2 linked regions of the Homo sapiens genome follow. The protein of the gene in region 1 interacts with the protein of each later gene in a pairwise test. Each region holds a gene or a part of one and is shown on either strand. Other genes may lie near its edges.

Region 1 (8,377 bases):
CCATGCCAAAAATACTATGAGCTCTTACTAGTCAACCCTATTTGGTTGGTCCCACCAACAAAGGTATAGCATATATTTTGTAAAAATTACTTAAAGTCAGTCAGAAATCCCTTGTATTTTAAAGAACTTTAGTGTTTGAGTCATTTTGCTAATAAGCGTTTGTCCAAGAAAAAATACTTTTGCACAGTGATTTTCACATTAAAAATGGCACAACAGCATTTTAATTTATGTAACATACTTTCAGCATCAGTACTCAATGAATTTTGATGCATTCTGTACCTTAGTCCTGTGAGGAGAAAATTAAGTTGCTTTTCTCTCGTTTTAGGCACTTGCAGTTACATTCACCACATTTGTAACGGAGCCATTGAAGCATATTGGAAAAGGAACTGGGGAATTTATTAAAGCACTCATGAAGGAAATTCCAGCGCTGCTTCATCTTCCAGTGCTGATAATTATGGCATTAGCCATCCTGGTTAGTATTAATATATTAGCACTGTCGGGCCAGGCGCGGTGGCTCACGCCTGTAATCCCAGCACTTTGGGAGGCCTAGGCGGGCGGATCACGAGGTCAGGAGATCGAGACCATCCTGGCTAACACAGTGAAACCCTGTCTCTACTAAAAAAAATACAAAAAATTAGCCGGGCGTGGTGGCGGGCGCCTGTAGTCCCAGCTACTCGGGAGGCTGAGGCAGGAGAACGGGGTGAACCTGGGAGGCGGAGCTTGCAGTGAGCCGAGATCGCACCACTGTACTCCAGCCTGGGCGACAGAGCAAGATTCCGTCTCAAAAAAAAAAAAAAATTATACATATATGTATATTTATATATCTATCTATATATATTTATATTTATATATCTGTCTATATTTATATATTTATTATATATAATATATATTTATATATTATATATTTATATTTATATATATATATGCACTGTCAGTATTTAGCAAGATTTATATTAAATCTTAGTATTAATATTAGTAATACTGGTTAGTATTAAATATTAGCACTGTCAATATTTAGCAAGATTTACAGAAAAAAAGGCAATGCTAAAATTATTGGGCTTCTTTGATGTTGTAAATCAGGCTAAGTCACGCTTAATGAGAAGGCGATTTTTAAGTGATACAGATTTTTTTCCTCCCCTCTGCCCCTCTAAATGATACAGACATATTATACTTACTTGTATATTTTTATAATCAAGAAAGTAGTTCTCTAGTTTGATTGCATATGTCATAGCAGTGATTTAGAATAATAACCTCTTTTTAAATGTGTTAACCTTGGTAAATTAATACACAGGAAATAGGAAGTTGATTTCTGTCTCCCAGAAAGGGGGACTTCTTATTTCTAGTCAGTTTTTGCAGCAGTGAGAAGGGTAGAGCATTGAGTTTGACACAGAACCAGAAAGGGATGTGGAAGAACATGGGTATGCTGAGAAAGAGTTTGGGGATCCAGGAGCAGACATTAAGAAGAAATATTACTCGTCATCCCTCCATGGTCTATTCAGTGTTTTTTGTTATCGATTTTTTAGCTATTACCCAAGTAAAGCAGTTGTCGCATAAAACAAAAAGAACTCAGATGTGCCAAGGGAAATTCTCTTCCCTAAGGATACAAGATTCACTATCTCTGTTCACTTTGAAATCGTTTCTTTTTTGGTTTTGTTTTTTGGCTTGTGATTACAGGATTATGTGGTTGACGGGTATTTTTTTGTTAGGTGACATTAGTTCTATAGTCATAGTTTAGTCTCTGAAACTGAAATTATCAGCAGAGTCTTCACCATCTGTTTTTGTTTCATGTGCTCCCTCAGGAAAGTTATGCTCTTTGACTTTTGCTGCTTTTGTCTTCAAATAGTAGTGTTTGAAAAACTAGTACAGAAATTTTCAAAGTTTCTGTTCTCAGGACCTCTTTGCAGTCTTAAAAATTGAAGCCCACAAACAGCTCTTACTTAAGGTGATTATATTTATTGATACTTACATATTAGGAGTTAAAACAAATTTAAAACATACGAGTACTGTACACGCAAGCATGCATCCCCTGAGTCTGAGTGAGGCTGTCACTCTAGCATCTGGAATGCTCCGTTGTATATTCAGGAGGGGACAGTGAAAAAGACAAATAATAATGTCTTTGTATTATGAAAAGTTTTGATCTCATAGATCTCCTGAAAGTCTCAGGTATCCCCCGGGGGTCCCTGGGCCACACTGTAAGGAACTGCTGCCTACTTTTTCCCATGGAATGTGAATCAAAACCTGTTGAATTTTAGCTGTAACTTAAGCCTAGTTTATATTTGTAAAAAGAAAATGTACAGAAGATTGTTTACATAATGATATACAACTTTAAATATTTTCAGCATTTACCTTATATGATGGGCATGAATCTAGAAACATGAATAATTATCAGACTAGAACCTTCTAATTTAAATATCTAGGCTTCAGCCTGCCATTGTTATAGTTCAATCGAAATGTGTCTAGCTGATTAAAATGTCTACTGAAAGATTTATTAAGTTTTATTGGCCACTCTGGCCTTGTATTAATCTAAAGAGGTCTCTAATGAAAAAAAGTCAAATTAACATGTTTATGTCTATAAATGCCACAAGTAAGTTAAATTACATAACTTTGTTAGCACTCTGAATAAAATGCCTCATAACTTTTGTAAGTTAGCCATTGAGTCCTCAGGAAAATGTATTTCTTTTCCTTACAGAGTTTCTGCTATGGTGCTGGAAAATCAGTTCATGTGCTGAGACATATAGGCGGTCCTGAGAGCGAACCTCCCCAGGCACTTCGGCCACGGGATAGAAGACGGCAGGAGGAAATTGATTATAGACCTGATGGTGGAGCAGGTGATGCCGATTTCCATTATAGGGGCCAAATGGGCCCCACTGAGCAAGGCCCTTATGCCAAAACGTATGAGGGTAGAAGAGAGATTTTGAGAGAGAGAGATGTTGACTTGAGATTTCAGACTGGCAACAAGAGCCCTGAAGTGCTCCGGGCATTTGATGTACCAGACGCAGAGGCACGAGAGCATCCCACGGTGGTACCCAGTGTAAGTCAGCAACTCTTTTATTCTGCTGTCCCTTCATTACTGGTTCTAAATCCTTCTGGAAGAGGTCTGATTGTTTTTACTCTTTTACCCCTCACCCTTAATTATATCATGAGTGATACAGCCACTCACTCTCTCCCCTTTCTGGTCAAAAGTTAGTTCAGCTTCCTCAGAAGAAATAAAATTAGATTTAACTTTTATGTAAAATACAATTTAACAGTAGTTTGTTAGAGCAGATGGTAATTCATATGAACCTTCATGGGAAGCCAGCGTATGAGCATGACAGAAATTTCTATCTTTGAAGAGATCAGAGAGAAGGCATCACTGAAGGCCCGGAGCTCTAGGGAAGGTACAGTAGAGCCCTAAAGGATTAGCTGGATGGAAGAGTGGGCTGGGGCCAGGGATCAAAAACATTGCTTCCCCAAATCTTCAGTGTCATTGGCTGGCTAGACTATACTTTTTACCTGTAGAATGGTAAGAAGAAGTTTTTCACCATTATCAGTCTTTTAAAGGGACATTTCCATTTCTGTTTGAGAGAGGAATTTGTATTGTCATTTGAAATGTTTAAATTGCAGCTGTTAAACCTTTGAAACAGTTATGAGCATAATAGAATCTGGGAAATTATAGAATCCCTTCCCATAGTTTCATATAAAAATAAACATATCTACATGTATCTAGAAAGATGGACCAGGCGCGGCGGCTCACGCCTGTGATCCCAGCACTGGGAGGCCGAGGCAGGCGGATCACTGGAGGTCTGCAGTTCAAGACCAGCCTGGCCAACGTGGCAAAGCCCCATCTCTACTGAAAATACAAGAAAATTAGCCAGGCGTGATGTGGTATGCACCTGTAATCCCAGCTACTTGGGAGGCTGAGACAGGAGAATTGCTTGATTCCAGGGGGCGGAGGTTGCAGTGAGCCGAGATCGTGCCATTGCACTCCAGCCTGGGTGACAGAGTGAGACGTCGTCTCAAAAAAAAAAAAAAAAAAAAAAAAACAACTTAAGATGGTCCTTCCAGCTTTTATAGTTAGTAATTACCTGTCACCTATCTCAGAAGTCTTCCAGTGACTTCCTATCTCACTTGAGGGGAAAGCCAGTATTACAATGGCCTGGAAGCCTCCTTGGTCTCCCCTTCCCCCACATCCACTACCTCTCTGGTCACCTCTTCTCCCTCCGTGCTTACTCTACTTTAGCCATAAGGGCTCCTGACTGTTCCTTGAACTTGAGAGCCTTTGTACCTGCTGTTCATTCTACAGTCTTCATTTATATATCAATCATATGGTTACTTTCTTCAGGCCTTTACTCATTTTTATTATTTTTGGAGACAAGGTCTCACTCTGTGGTCAAGGCTGGGGTGCAGTGATCATAGCTCATTGCAGCCTCAAAATCCTGGGCTCAACCGATTCTTTTGCCTCAGCCTTCTGAGTAACTAGGACTATAGGCATATACGACCATGCCTGGCTAATATTTTTTATTTTTTGTGGATATGGGGTCTTGCTGTTACCCAGGCTGGTCTCAAACTCCTGGCCTCAAGCAGTCTTCTCACCTTGGCCTCCCAAAGTTATGGGATTACAGGTGTGAGCCACCATGCCTAACCATATCACTTTTTCAGACCACCCTAATTTAAACTGTAATTTGACCCTGCCAGCCCACCCACATTCAGCACTCATCTCTTCTCTGCTTTTTTTACATAGCCTCTTTAATTCAACATATCACACTTGTGTGATTTTCTTCTAACCTAAATATAAGTTCCAGTGAGAACAGTTTTATGTATTTTGTTCCTGCTGTATCCCTAACACCTAGAACTTAATATATGCTCAAGAAATATTTGTCAAATGAATTATTCTCACCAGGCAAGAGAAGTTGACAATACTGATGACCAATTCTCTTGACCCCTTCTAAGCTGGGCCACTAGACCACCCAGTATATGCGCTAAGCGTTCCCACTCCTCTGTGGGAGTACTGTGGAGTTTGGTGAGGTATAATAACATTTATATAATTATAACCCAGCACTGGACCCTGGATTTGAAAGAGTTTGGAGCTTGCTACAACGGATTTGGGTGGGAACTTTTTAGATATGTTTGATTACTAAGACTTCACATTACATTAAACAGTTAAAATGTAATTTTGTACTTTATAGCATAAATCACCTGTTTTGGATACAAAGCCCAAGGAGACAGGTGGAATCCTGGGGGAAGGCACACCGAAAGAAAGCAGTACTGAAAGCAGCCAGTCGGCCAAGCCTGTCTCTGGCCAAGACACATCAGGGAATACAGAAGGTTCACCCGCAGCGGAAAAGGCCCAGCTCAAGTCTGAAGCCGCAGGCAGCCCAGACCAAGGCAGCACATACAGCCCCGCAAGAGGTGTGGCTGGACCACGTGGACAGGATCCGGTCAGCAGCCCCTGTGGCTAGAGGAACACCAGCACAAACGACAGCCTCAAGTCTCCTTCGAGCTTTGTAAAGTATACTCTTCACTCTCTTTCTCTTCTCTGCAAGAATTCTGATTACTACAAAGGTGCCAACTTCAACATTCACATTTCAACTTCAACATTCACATTTTTACTGACAATTAGAATTAACAAACACGTTATATATGTAAAAGCTTTTCATTTCATCTTCTCTTTGATATTTACATCCCATAAAGTAAGAAGTGTTTATTTTAAGATGAACAGATGACAGGCATCACTGATTCTGGATAGTTAAGGAGGCCAGTTTGAATTGGGGACATTGAAAAAGAAATTTTATTGTTACAGGCACTTACGGGAACCCACTAACCAATTTACATTGCCTAGTGAATCCACTAGAGTTAAGGCCACCCACTTGATGCCTCCAGCATCTTCATGCAGCCATGGAGTATCGTTACCAGGATCAGTCTGACTGACACCTCAGCTTATCTCTACGCAGGCTGCCCACAGGTCACTGTGGCTGTAGTTTCATCTTTTCCACAGCTATTACTACGCCTGCATCCTTATTGTTCCTTTTACTTTGTTTACTTAGAGAAAACTGAAGACTGCCAGGGCAATTTAGATAACATAGCTTGTTATATTGGTAATCTGTTTTACAGAGTCAGTCGACTGAAAATGACTTTATTCTTTTCCCCCACCAATTGAAGTGCATGGGCTTTTTATAAAACCTATTTTTTGTGTTACTCAGAATCCTAGCAGTGGAGACTATTAGATATTACCATATCTTAATTCATATTATAGCAAATCATATTGTCTTGTCCATAGGAAGTTTGCATTTTTAGAGATCTATACATAGAGAATACCATGATGAGGAAGAAGAGAGTTGGGTGTCTTCCTTAACTGCAGACAGGACATCAGTCAGCACTTTACATTAGTCTTTCTGATTATCAAAAGCATTCCTCATTTTAAACTTTTTAAAAAGCAATGCATAAATTTTGTACCTGTCCTTAGCAGACTTCACAGACATCAGGTGTCCTTTGTTTTAACCATATTCACACTACAAGTTATGTTCAACTGCTTACTAAAAGTGATACCAGTCAGGAATAAAGTCTTTAAATTTTCATGCAGATATTTGTATCCCAAGCACTTGCTTTTTTATTTTAATATGAAATGCAGAATACACATTTTTGGATCCAGGAAGTGTTACTTACGTGCCTGTAACAATGTAATTTTAGGCCAGGTGCAGTGGCTCATGCCTACAGTCCTAGCACTTTGGAAGGTTGAGGGAGGATGATCGCTTAAGTTCAGTTGTTGAAATGCAGAATACACATTTTTGGATCCAGGAAGTGTTACTTACGTGCCTGTAACAATGTAATTTTAGGCCAGGTGCAGTGGCTCATGCCTACAGTCCTAGCACTTTGGAAGGTTGAGGGAGGATGATCGCTTAAGTTCAGTTGTTGAAATGCAGAATACACATTTTTGGATCCAGGAAGTGTTACTTACGTGCCTGTAACAATGTAATTTTAGGCCAGGTGCAGTGGCTCATGCCTACAGTCCTAGCACTTTGGAAGGTTGAGGGAGGATGATCGCTTAAGCTCAGTTGTTCAAGGCTATGTACTAAAAATAAAACTAGCCAGGCATGGTGGTACACGCCTGTAGTCCCAGCTACTTGGAGGGCTGAGGCAAGAGGATCGTGAGGTGGCAGTGAGTTATGATCGAGCCACTGTACTCCAGCCTGGGTGACAGAGCAAGACCTTGTCTCAAAATTATACATGTTAATATATTCTAGTTTAATATTGCAAACATCTTTAGAATTTCATCAGAAACGTGATTTTTTCTAAGAAATGCAAAAGGATTTTAGGATTTTTAACACAGAGGACATGTTTAACAAATGAATCCTGACAGACACCTGCAGTTTAGAATAAATTTGTGAACATCCATGCGTATAAAGTGTCCTCTTGGGACAAGACATGTTCACACTGACTTGGGGAATATGCCCCCAAGGTGAGAGCTGTCTTTTGAACTGTGATCTGACTCTGAAAAGTAGTGAATGCCCCAGGTGATAGACTGTAACTGTGAGTGGAATTAATGCTGCTTGCATGCCTTTTAATCCAAAACCAAATTCTTTTAAAAAATTTTTAAATAAAATTTCACCTTTGTATTCTTTCATTACAGATATCCATTTGGGGATGAAGTCTACTTTGACAGCTAGCAAGGCGACATGCAACTGTTGTTGAATGATGACAGCAATTCAGGAAAGACTTAAATATGAAAGCAAATTGAACACATCGGGTGTTTGTTATCAGAAAAGAGATGAGATGAGATAAGACTTGTTTATTGACTAGCCAATATGTCATTAAAATTAAGGTTTATATTGTGAAGCTTTTTTGAAATTTTACTTTTTTTTGAGAGTTTTGCTCTGTCACCCAGGCTGGAGTGAGGTGGTACAATCTCGGCTCACTGCAACCTCCACCTCCCAGGTTCAAGAGATTCTCCTGCCTCAGTCTCCCGAGTAGCTAGGATTACAGATGTGCATCACCATGCCTGGCTAATTTTTGTATTTTTTAGTAGAGATGGGGTTTCACCATGTTGGTCAGGCTGGTCTCGAACTCCTGACCTCAAGTGACCCGCCCTTGTCGGCCTCCCAAAGTGCTGGGATTACAGGCATGAGCCATTGTGCCCAGCCTATATAGTGTGAAGCTTTTAGGAAAATCAGAACAGGGTAGACAGCTGTTAAAAACAATGTTTAAATGGAATAATGTTGAATGTTTACAGGCTGTAAGAACTATTGTATACACAAAATAATACACAAAGTTTGTACTTTGTGTACAAATACAAATTTGTACTTTGTGTACAAATAATACAAAAAGTTTGTATACACAAACTTTTTACGTTGTGGTTTGGTATATTGTCTTAACTGAATTTTCTTATAAGAACCCCATGAAA
Region 2 (8,135 bases), on another chromosome or scaffold:
TATGTTGCCCAGGCTGTTCTCAAACTCCTGGCCTCAAGCAATCCTCCCACCTCAGCCTCCCAAAGTGCTGAGATTACAACTGTGAGCCACCATGCCTAGCTGTGCATAAGCCTTATGCAGTTTGTAGAGGAGCCATCTGGGAAGAGCACTAGGCTGTGAGTAAATAGACCTGGGATTTAGCTCTAGTTCTGCTTTTAACACGTTGTGACCTTGGTCTATTTACTTCACTTCTCCAACCTCTTCTAGCTTCAAAATTATGTATATAATTTGCTTAAAATAATCAATATGAGAGTATGAATGACTGATCATATCCTAATGAATCTCTACAGGGTCAAGTTCTAGATACGACAATGAGTTCCTTTTAGAGGGGTTGGAGCAGGTCAGGGGAGGCTTCCTTCACATCACAAAATGACCTGGTGGGTCAGCTACAGATGGAGGGCAGTGGATAGGTCTTGGAGGAGCAGGAAATTTTTCTATCTTGAAGACCTCTTCATTTGTAATCTGACCTACTTCCTGGGATATAAACTGTCATTGATGAGATTATGTATATTTTCTTGTGATTCCAGACTTTATGGATACCTTGCATAATCTATAAACTAGTAGATAACTGTAAGAGAAGAAAAGCCAGGTTGCGGCTCCTAAATTCTGCCTGTTGTTAATGGAAGAAACTCTGCTACTGCTCTGAATTCTCCTTCCCCATCATCTTCCCATTTGAAGCATCGGTTTCACTGGTTTAACCCTAATTTCTCAATAACGGAAGCAAATATTGCAATGGGGAGAGTACAACCCCACCTTAAAACAAATACCCTAGAACCTGTGTCTTTCTAAGCTACACAAAACACGTCAGGATTTGGACTGCCTTTGGAATGCTGAGCCATTAACCCCCACTGACAGAAATCGGGGGGAGCACAAACTCTGAGTCTCATCTGATGACAGCTTAAAAGATCATGGGAGTGAGGCTAGAGAAACTTTTACACCATTAGTCCTGCCCTTGTACTATCTCCTGGCAACTGACCCCAGCAATTAATAGCCTAGGAATTACAATCCTACTTACTGTTGATGCCTAATTACTATATAGGACGATGATTATGCAGATCATTAAATGTTTGTCAAATTAAAAATTTTAAAGTTTTAATTTCAACACTAAATCCTCAGTGGGTTTAGATGTATACAGACTTCATAAAATCATATCACACGGTCTTCTTACAAGGTAAAAAACACAAAATACAACGGTGCTCTCAAGTGATACTTTTTTTGCGGGGGATGGGGGAAGGAGTTTCGCTTTTGTTGCCCAGGCTAGAATGCAATGGCGTGATCTCGGCTCACCGCAACCTCCACCTCCTGGGTTCAAGTGATTCTCCTACCTCAGCCTCCAGAAAGTCTGAGATTACAGGCATGCGCGACCACACCCGGCTAATTTTGTATTTTTAGTAGAGACGCGGTTTCTCTGTGTTGGTCAGGCTGGTCTCGAACTCCCAACCTCAGGTGATCCGCCCGCCTCGGCCTCCCAAAGTGCTGGGATTACAGGTGTGAGCCACCGCACGGGCAGATCACCTCAGGTCGGGAGTTCGAGACCAGCCTGACCAACACAGAGAAACCCCATCTCTACTAAAAATACAAAATTAGCCGGGCATGGTGGTGCATGCCTGTTATCCCAGCTACTCGGGAGGCTGAGGCAGGAGAATCGCTTGAACCCGGGAGGTGGAGGTTGTGGTGAGCCAAGATCACGCCATTGCACTCCAGCCTAGGCAACAAGAGCAAACTCCGTCCCAAAAAAAAAAAAAAAAAAAAAAAAGAAAGAAGTATACTTCTAATGTCCAAATAATACATAATATAGTCATTTTGAAAATCTGCACATCATAACAGGATTCCTCATAGCAGGATATTTTCATGCTCAGTCTTGTATTTCAGCACAAACTAAAGAGTTACACATCACAGTATGTCTGTAGTATCATGGGCTTCCCAGATATGGCTGGACTTCAGCAACAGTAGCCTTTTAAAAACAAATTCCATGGCCCCAATATCATTTAGTTACTTTTATTTAAACTTACCAGCAACTGAACACTATCTTTCCCTAAAAGATGAAGAATCTTGTAAATGCTTGCAAAGATTAAGGGATAAGTGTAACTCCTCAGTCTCTCTGTCCATTCCCAAGTCAAATAACCATAATTAGTAACATTAAGGAGTAAATGTCCAATAATATTGAAACCTATTTCCGTGTTTTTTTTTTTTTTAAGATGGGGTCTCACTCTCTTGCCCAGGCTGGTCTCAAACTTGGGCTCAAGTGGTCCTGCCTCTACAGGTGCACACCACTTCACCTGGCAAAATCTATTTTCATTTCCATTTATAAAACAATATTTTATTTTGTGGCAGTCTTAAAACAGCATTTTATACTGGATATTTGCATTAAAAATTCAATTGGCCAACTAAACTCTTAACTTCTTCAAGGCAGTAATGTGTTTTTTACTTTCTCTGTATCCTCCAAGTGCTAAGTACTGTGGGAATGTATGCTAACGGCTGTGTCAAGTATATTAACATAAAAGAAAGATACAGGAGAAATATTTGTATAAAATAATGGTATACTTTGATGAGTTAAAATTATTTGGGGAAAATACGGAAAACTGAAAATATGTATAGTAGTCCCCCCTTATCTGTGGTTTCTCTTTCCATGTTTCAGTTGCCCAGAGTCAACCACTGTCTGAAAATATGAAGATATTTTGAGAGAGACCACATAAAAGTTCACATAACTTTTATTATAGTATTGTGTTATACTTGTTATATTTTAATACTGTTAATCTCTTACTGTACCTAATTTGTATAAACTTTATCATAAGCGTGTGTGTATTTTTTACATATATAAAAACAATATATATAGAGTTTGGTACTGTCTACAGTTTCAAGCATCCACTAGGGATTTTGGAAACTATCTACTGAAGACGAGGGAGCAAGGGGGACTACTCTAAAAGAAACTGAGCACAATTTCCAAGATGAATACACACTCATAGTCTGGAAAAGAAACCACAAAGGATATTTGAAAACCATGTGATGTGAAACTTCAAGAGACTGCCAGTATTCATCTGGAACAAAACTTGTCTGCACTAAAAAGCAGTTTAATATTCGTAAAGCTATGGTAAACAAGAGCAGATAAATATTTTCTCCAAGAAGATCTGAAAAACAGAACAAAACAGGTAATAGTGGCACAAAAGTCAGGCAGTTCCACTTGCAAAACTTAAAATCTGCTGCTCTGGTTGGCTCCTTGTAAGGCACAGTAGTGACCTCTGGTCCCTCCACACCATTCTTAAAGCCAACTTGGTTGGTTATACAAGCACCACAGCGTCATCACTGGGTGACTGCCACTCTTTTAGTTTAACCAACTTTTCTTGCAACTTATTGTGTAAAGATAATATTAAAATAAATACAAAAAAAAAAGAGTGGGTTAACTAAGGCCTTAGGCTAATTAATTAGGTCATACTATGTGTGTATCTAATGAAAGAAACCAGCTAACAAATTACTAATTTGGGAAGCAGCCCTTTGTATATGTGCAATATAAAATGGTCCTCTGTACATATATATTGATGATTACTATTATATATGCCAGGCACTGTGTTAATTTCTTCACATGCATCTCACTTAATCCTCCAAACAATATTATGGGATAGGTATTATTAGCCCCATTTTACAGACGAGCAAATTGAGGCCCAGAAATTAAACTGCCTTGTCCAAATAAAGTTGTAAATTACTTATCAGGATTCAAACCCGGGTCTGTGTGATGTCTCCAAAGTCCTGCTCTTGACCACAAATGGACAGCCTGTCGGCCAAATACAGAGTATTTTTTAAAAAATTGAATTTAGTTGCCAACATTTAAAAATCAGAATTTATATTAAAATCTGTGTTTCCAGCATTTCCCAGCATTTCAAAACTCAAGATCTGGCAACACAGAGCTCAACGGGCAACTGGCTGGTAATGAAATGGAGGGGGTTCCTTTTAGATGGGGGTAGGAGCTCTCCAGACAGTGTCCCCTCACTCACCCCCGCGGCGCCTGGCGCTCTTCTCCTGGGTGTTGAAGTACAAGGTAGACTTTCTCTTTCGCAGCTTTATCTTGCCGTGGGAGCGGTTCTGGAGACCATGCAAAGTGAGGCTGGCATCTCCGCCCCCCGGCTCCATTCCGCACTTGCTTAGGGGCCTCCTCATCCCTGGCCGCCACCTTCCTAAGGCGGAAGAAAGCTGCAGTAGCGCGCTGCTCGTCCATCCATTAAGTTTGGCCTTTGAGAGCAGTCGTCGCTCGCAAGCCCGGAAGTAACCGGGAACGGGCAACTTCGTAGCTCCCACCCGACGTGGTGGCCTCCTTGCGGTTTCCTTTCGCCGTTTCCGAACCGAGGGATTGCTACTCGCCTTTGGCTTGGCGGTCTCTGTGCTCGGGGGTCCGAAAACTGCTGGAAGGCCCCCGGTCTCTGGAGGGGAGCAGGCGGTAGCGAGTTTAGTGACGTGGAGCAGGCGCAGAACAGTCGGAGGTACCTGAGTGGTTATTAAAAACGGTAACGGTAATTGTAGACGTCAGTGTTGGTGTTAACATTTCAGGTTCGTTGCTCTCACAAAAAATGCCTGTTCAACGAGGTAGGCAGGGTAGGGATGATTTAGCTTGTTGTACAGATGTGGAAACAGGCCGAATGGTTCCTATTTTTTTTGTTGTTGTTGCTGTTGTTAGGTTTTTTTTTTGTTTTTGTTTTTGTTTTTTTTTTTGAGACGGAGTTTCGCTCTTGTAGTCCAGGCTGGAGTGCAGTGGCGCAATCTGGGCTCACTGCAACTTCTGCCTCCCGGGTTCCAGTGATTTTCCTGCCTCAGCTCCCAAGTAGCTGGGACTACAGGCGCGCCACCACGCCTGGCCAATTTTTGTGTTTTTTTGTAGAGACGGGGTTTCACCATATTGGCCTGGCTGGTCTGGAACTCCTGACCTCGTGATCCGCCCGCCTCGGCCTCCCAAAGTGTTGGGATTACAGGCGTGAGCCACCGCGTGCGGCCCACTCCTCTTGTTAAAAGTAAAACCAGGCCGGGCGCGGTGGCTCACGCCTGTATTCCCAGTACTTTGGGAGGCCAAGACGGGCGGATCAGGAGGTCAGAGGATCGAGACCATCCTGGCTAACACGGTGAAACCCCGTCTCTACAAAAAATACAAAAAATTAGCCGGGTGTGGTGACACGCGCCTGTAGTCCCAGCTTCTCGGGAGGCTGAGGTAGGAGAATGGCGTTAACCGAGGAGGCGGAGCTTGCAGTGAGCCGAGATTGCGCCATTGCACTCCAGCCTGGGCGACAGAGCGAGACTCCGTCTCAAAAAAAAAAAAAAAAAGAAAAAGTATGCATTTAAAACCATTGAGAACATTCTGTAATAGAAAAGGTTTTAGTTTTGTCTTATACCCTTCCCTAATTCACTTCCTGTACTCCTTATGTATTTATATTCTTGTTTTAATTAGTAACATATTATAAAAATATTGTTCACTCCAGTGCAAAGTAGTGACATAACATCTTTTAAAAGGACATTGTACTAAGTGATGGCTTTGCTTTCCATTTTTGTATGCAGATTTGAAGAGATTTCCTGGGTGTGGAGTGTGACTTTCCAAAACCAGCTTTTCCTTGAGCTGTATTTGTTGCAGCAATGTTTAGGAGATTGACTTTTGCACAACTGCTTTTTGCCACTGTCCTTGGAATTGCTGGAGGAGTATATATTTTTCAACCAGTATTTGAACAGTATGCCAAAGATCAGAAGGAATTAAAAGAAAAGATGCAGTTGGTACAAGAATCAGAAGAGAAGAAAAGTTAATACTACATGGAGTTAGGCCTGGCGCAGTGGCTCACGCCTGTAATCCCAGCACTTTGGGAGGCCGAGGCGGGTGGATCAGGTGGTCAGGAGTTCAAGACCAGCCTGACCAACATGGTGAAACCCTGTCTCTACTGAAAATACAAAAATCAGCCAGGCTTGGTGGCATGCGCCTGTAATCCCAGCTACTTGGGAGGCTGAGGCAGGAGCATCACTTGAACCTGGGAGGCAGAGGTGGCAGTGAGTCAAGATCACGCTGCTGCACTCCAGCCTGGGTGACAGAGCGAGACTCCATCTAAAAAAACAAAAAGCAAAAAAACCCACAAATACCTCATGGAGATGAACTGTAATAATTGCTTAAAGTTCCATTTAATTATGTTAACTCTAATCTAGCAAAAACATAGATGTACTTAAAAATAAATCATGGATAATGATTTTTTAACCTAACACTGTTAATTTTAATGTTTATTGTATATTTGTCATTTTATGTCTTTTTACCAGGACAGATAAGTAATTTCCTTTTAAACAAAAGTGAATATTTTAGGAATATTTTCTACTTGAGGTTTATTTTTCTAGGAATTCAGCATATGCAGTATCATGGGGTGCCAGTCTCAGTGTGTATATAATAATTGGGAAGGGTGTTTGCAATAGTGTTTGTAGATATGTGAACCAACTTAAACTACCTCAGGCAGAAATCCACTCCGTTACCCTGCAGTTAGATTGGTTTAATATATTTTGGCAGTCATTCAATCCCAGCCGTTTTTCATCTCAGGCAGTGTGGAGGAGTAGTTGAGAGTTGGGATGGCTCAGATCAAATTGAGGTTTTAGAGAAGGTAGATGTTGTTTGAGAGGATGGCAGATATGACACAGATGTTTTTTAATCCACTAAGCAAATTTGCATTAATAATTGTGTTAAGGGAGTAGTTAATTTATTATGAAGCTATTATTCATATAGTTAAAATTTTTTTTGAAGTTACTAAGAATTGGTATTACTTTTTACTCTAGCGTTAAGTTTGTATTTTCTTTTTTTCTCCTTTTTTTTTTTAAGTTCTGGGATACATGTGCTGAACGTGCAGGTTTGTAACATAGATATACATGTGCCATGGTGTTTGCTGCACCTGTCAACCCGTCATCTAGGTTTTAAGCCCTGCAGGCATTAGGTATTTGTCCTAATGCTCTCCCTCCCCTTGCCCCCCACCCGCCCCCGACAGGCCCCAGTGTGTGATGTTCCCCTCCCTGTGTCCATGTATTCTCATTGTTCAGCTCTCACTTATGAGTGAGAACATGTGGTGTTTGGTTTTCTGTTCCTGTGTTAGTTAGTTTGCTGAGAATGATGGTTTCCAGCTTCATCCATGTCCCTACAAAGTACATAAATTCTTTTTTTTTTTTTTTTTTTGAGACGGAGTCTGGCTCTGTTGCCCAGGCTGGAGCGCAGTGGCGCAATATTGGTTTGCTGCAACCTCTGCCTCCGCCTCCCAGGTTCAAGCAGTTCTGCCTCAGCCTACGTAGTAGCTGGGACTACATGTGTGCACCACCACACCTAGCTAATGTTTGTATTTTTAGTAGAGATGGGGTTTCACCATTTTGGCCAGAATGGTTTCAATCTGCTGACCTCGTGATCCACCTGCTTCGGCCTCCCAAAGTGCTGGGATTATAGGCATGAGCCACCGCGCCTGGCCGTGCATGTGTCTTTATAGTAGAATGATTTGTAATCCTTTGGGTATATACCCAGTAATGGGATTGCTGGGTCAAATGGCATTTCTGGTTGTAGATCCTTGAGGAATTGCCACACTGTCTTCACAATGGTTGAACTAATTTACACTCCCACCAACAGTGTAAAAGCGTTCGTATTTCTCCACAGCCTCACCAGCATCTGTTGTTTCCTGACTTTTTAATGATCACCATTCTAACTGGCATGAGATGGTATCTCATTGTGGTTTTGATTTGCATTTCTCTAATGACAAGTGATGATGAGCTTTTTTTCATAAGTTTGTTGGCTGCGTAAATGTCTTCTTTTGAGAAGTGTCTGTTCATATCCTTCACTCACTTTTTGATGGGGTTGTTTTTTTCTTGTAAATTTGTTTAAGTCCCTTGTAGATTCTGGATATTAGCCCTTTGTCAGATGGATAGATTACGAAAATTTTCTCCCATTCTGTAGGTTGCCTGTTCACTCTCACGATAGTTTCTTTTGCTAGGCAGAAGCTCTTTAATTAGATCCCATTTGTCGATTTTGGCTTTTGTTGCAATTGCTTTTTGGTGGCCTTGTCATGAAGTCTTTGCCCGTGCCTATGTCCTGAATGGTATTGCCTAGGTTTTCTTCTAGA

Evidence for each region.
Region 2: the proteins of CLCC1 (region 1) and PIGBOS1 interact in binary tests that used the Homo sapiens proteins (3 or more experiments, as listed by UniProt).

Annotation. Positions count from the first base shown.
Region 1 is NC_000001.11:108,931,731-108,940,107, reverse strand, and holds part of CLCC1 (chloride channel CLIC-like protein 1 isoform 1 precursor), read left to right. Parts: coding exon 1-63; intron 64-325; coding exon 326-472; intron 473-1,799; exon of another isoform or gene 1,800-1,942; intron 1,943-2,689; coding exon 2,690-3,031; intron 3,032-5,165; coding exon 5,166-5,438; 3' UTR 5,439-5,483; exon of another isoform or gene 5,484-5,488; intron 5,489-5,562; exon of another isoform or gene 5,563-7,606; 3' UTR 7,607-8,377. UniProt on the Homo sapiens protein: Anion-selective channel with Ca(2+)-dependent and voltage-independent gating. Permeable to small monovalent anions with selectivity for bromide > chloride > nitrate > fluoride.
Region 2 is NC_000015.10:55,315,307-55,323,441, reverse strand, and holds PIGBOS1 (protein PIGBOS1), read left to right. Parts: upstream 1-4,318; 5' UTR 4,319-4,578; exon of another isoform or gene 4,579-4,614; intron 4,615-5,574; 5' UTR 5,575-5,649; coding exon 5,650-5,814; 3' UTR 5,815-6,258; downstream 6,259-8,135. Other genes in the region: PIGB (GPI alpha-1,2-mannosyltransferase 3), read right to left, coding at 2,052-2,169, 3,032-3,167, 4,029-4,191. UniProt on the Homo sapiens protein: Plays a role in regulation of the unfolded protein response triggered by endoplasmic reticulum (ER) stress resulting from the presence of unfolded proteins in the ER lumen.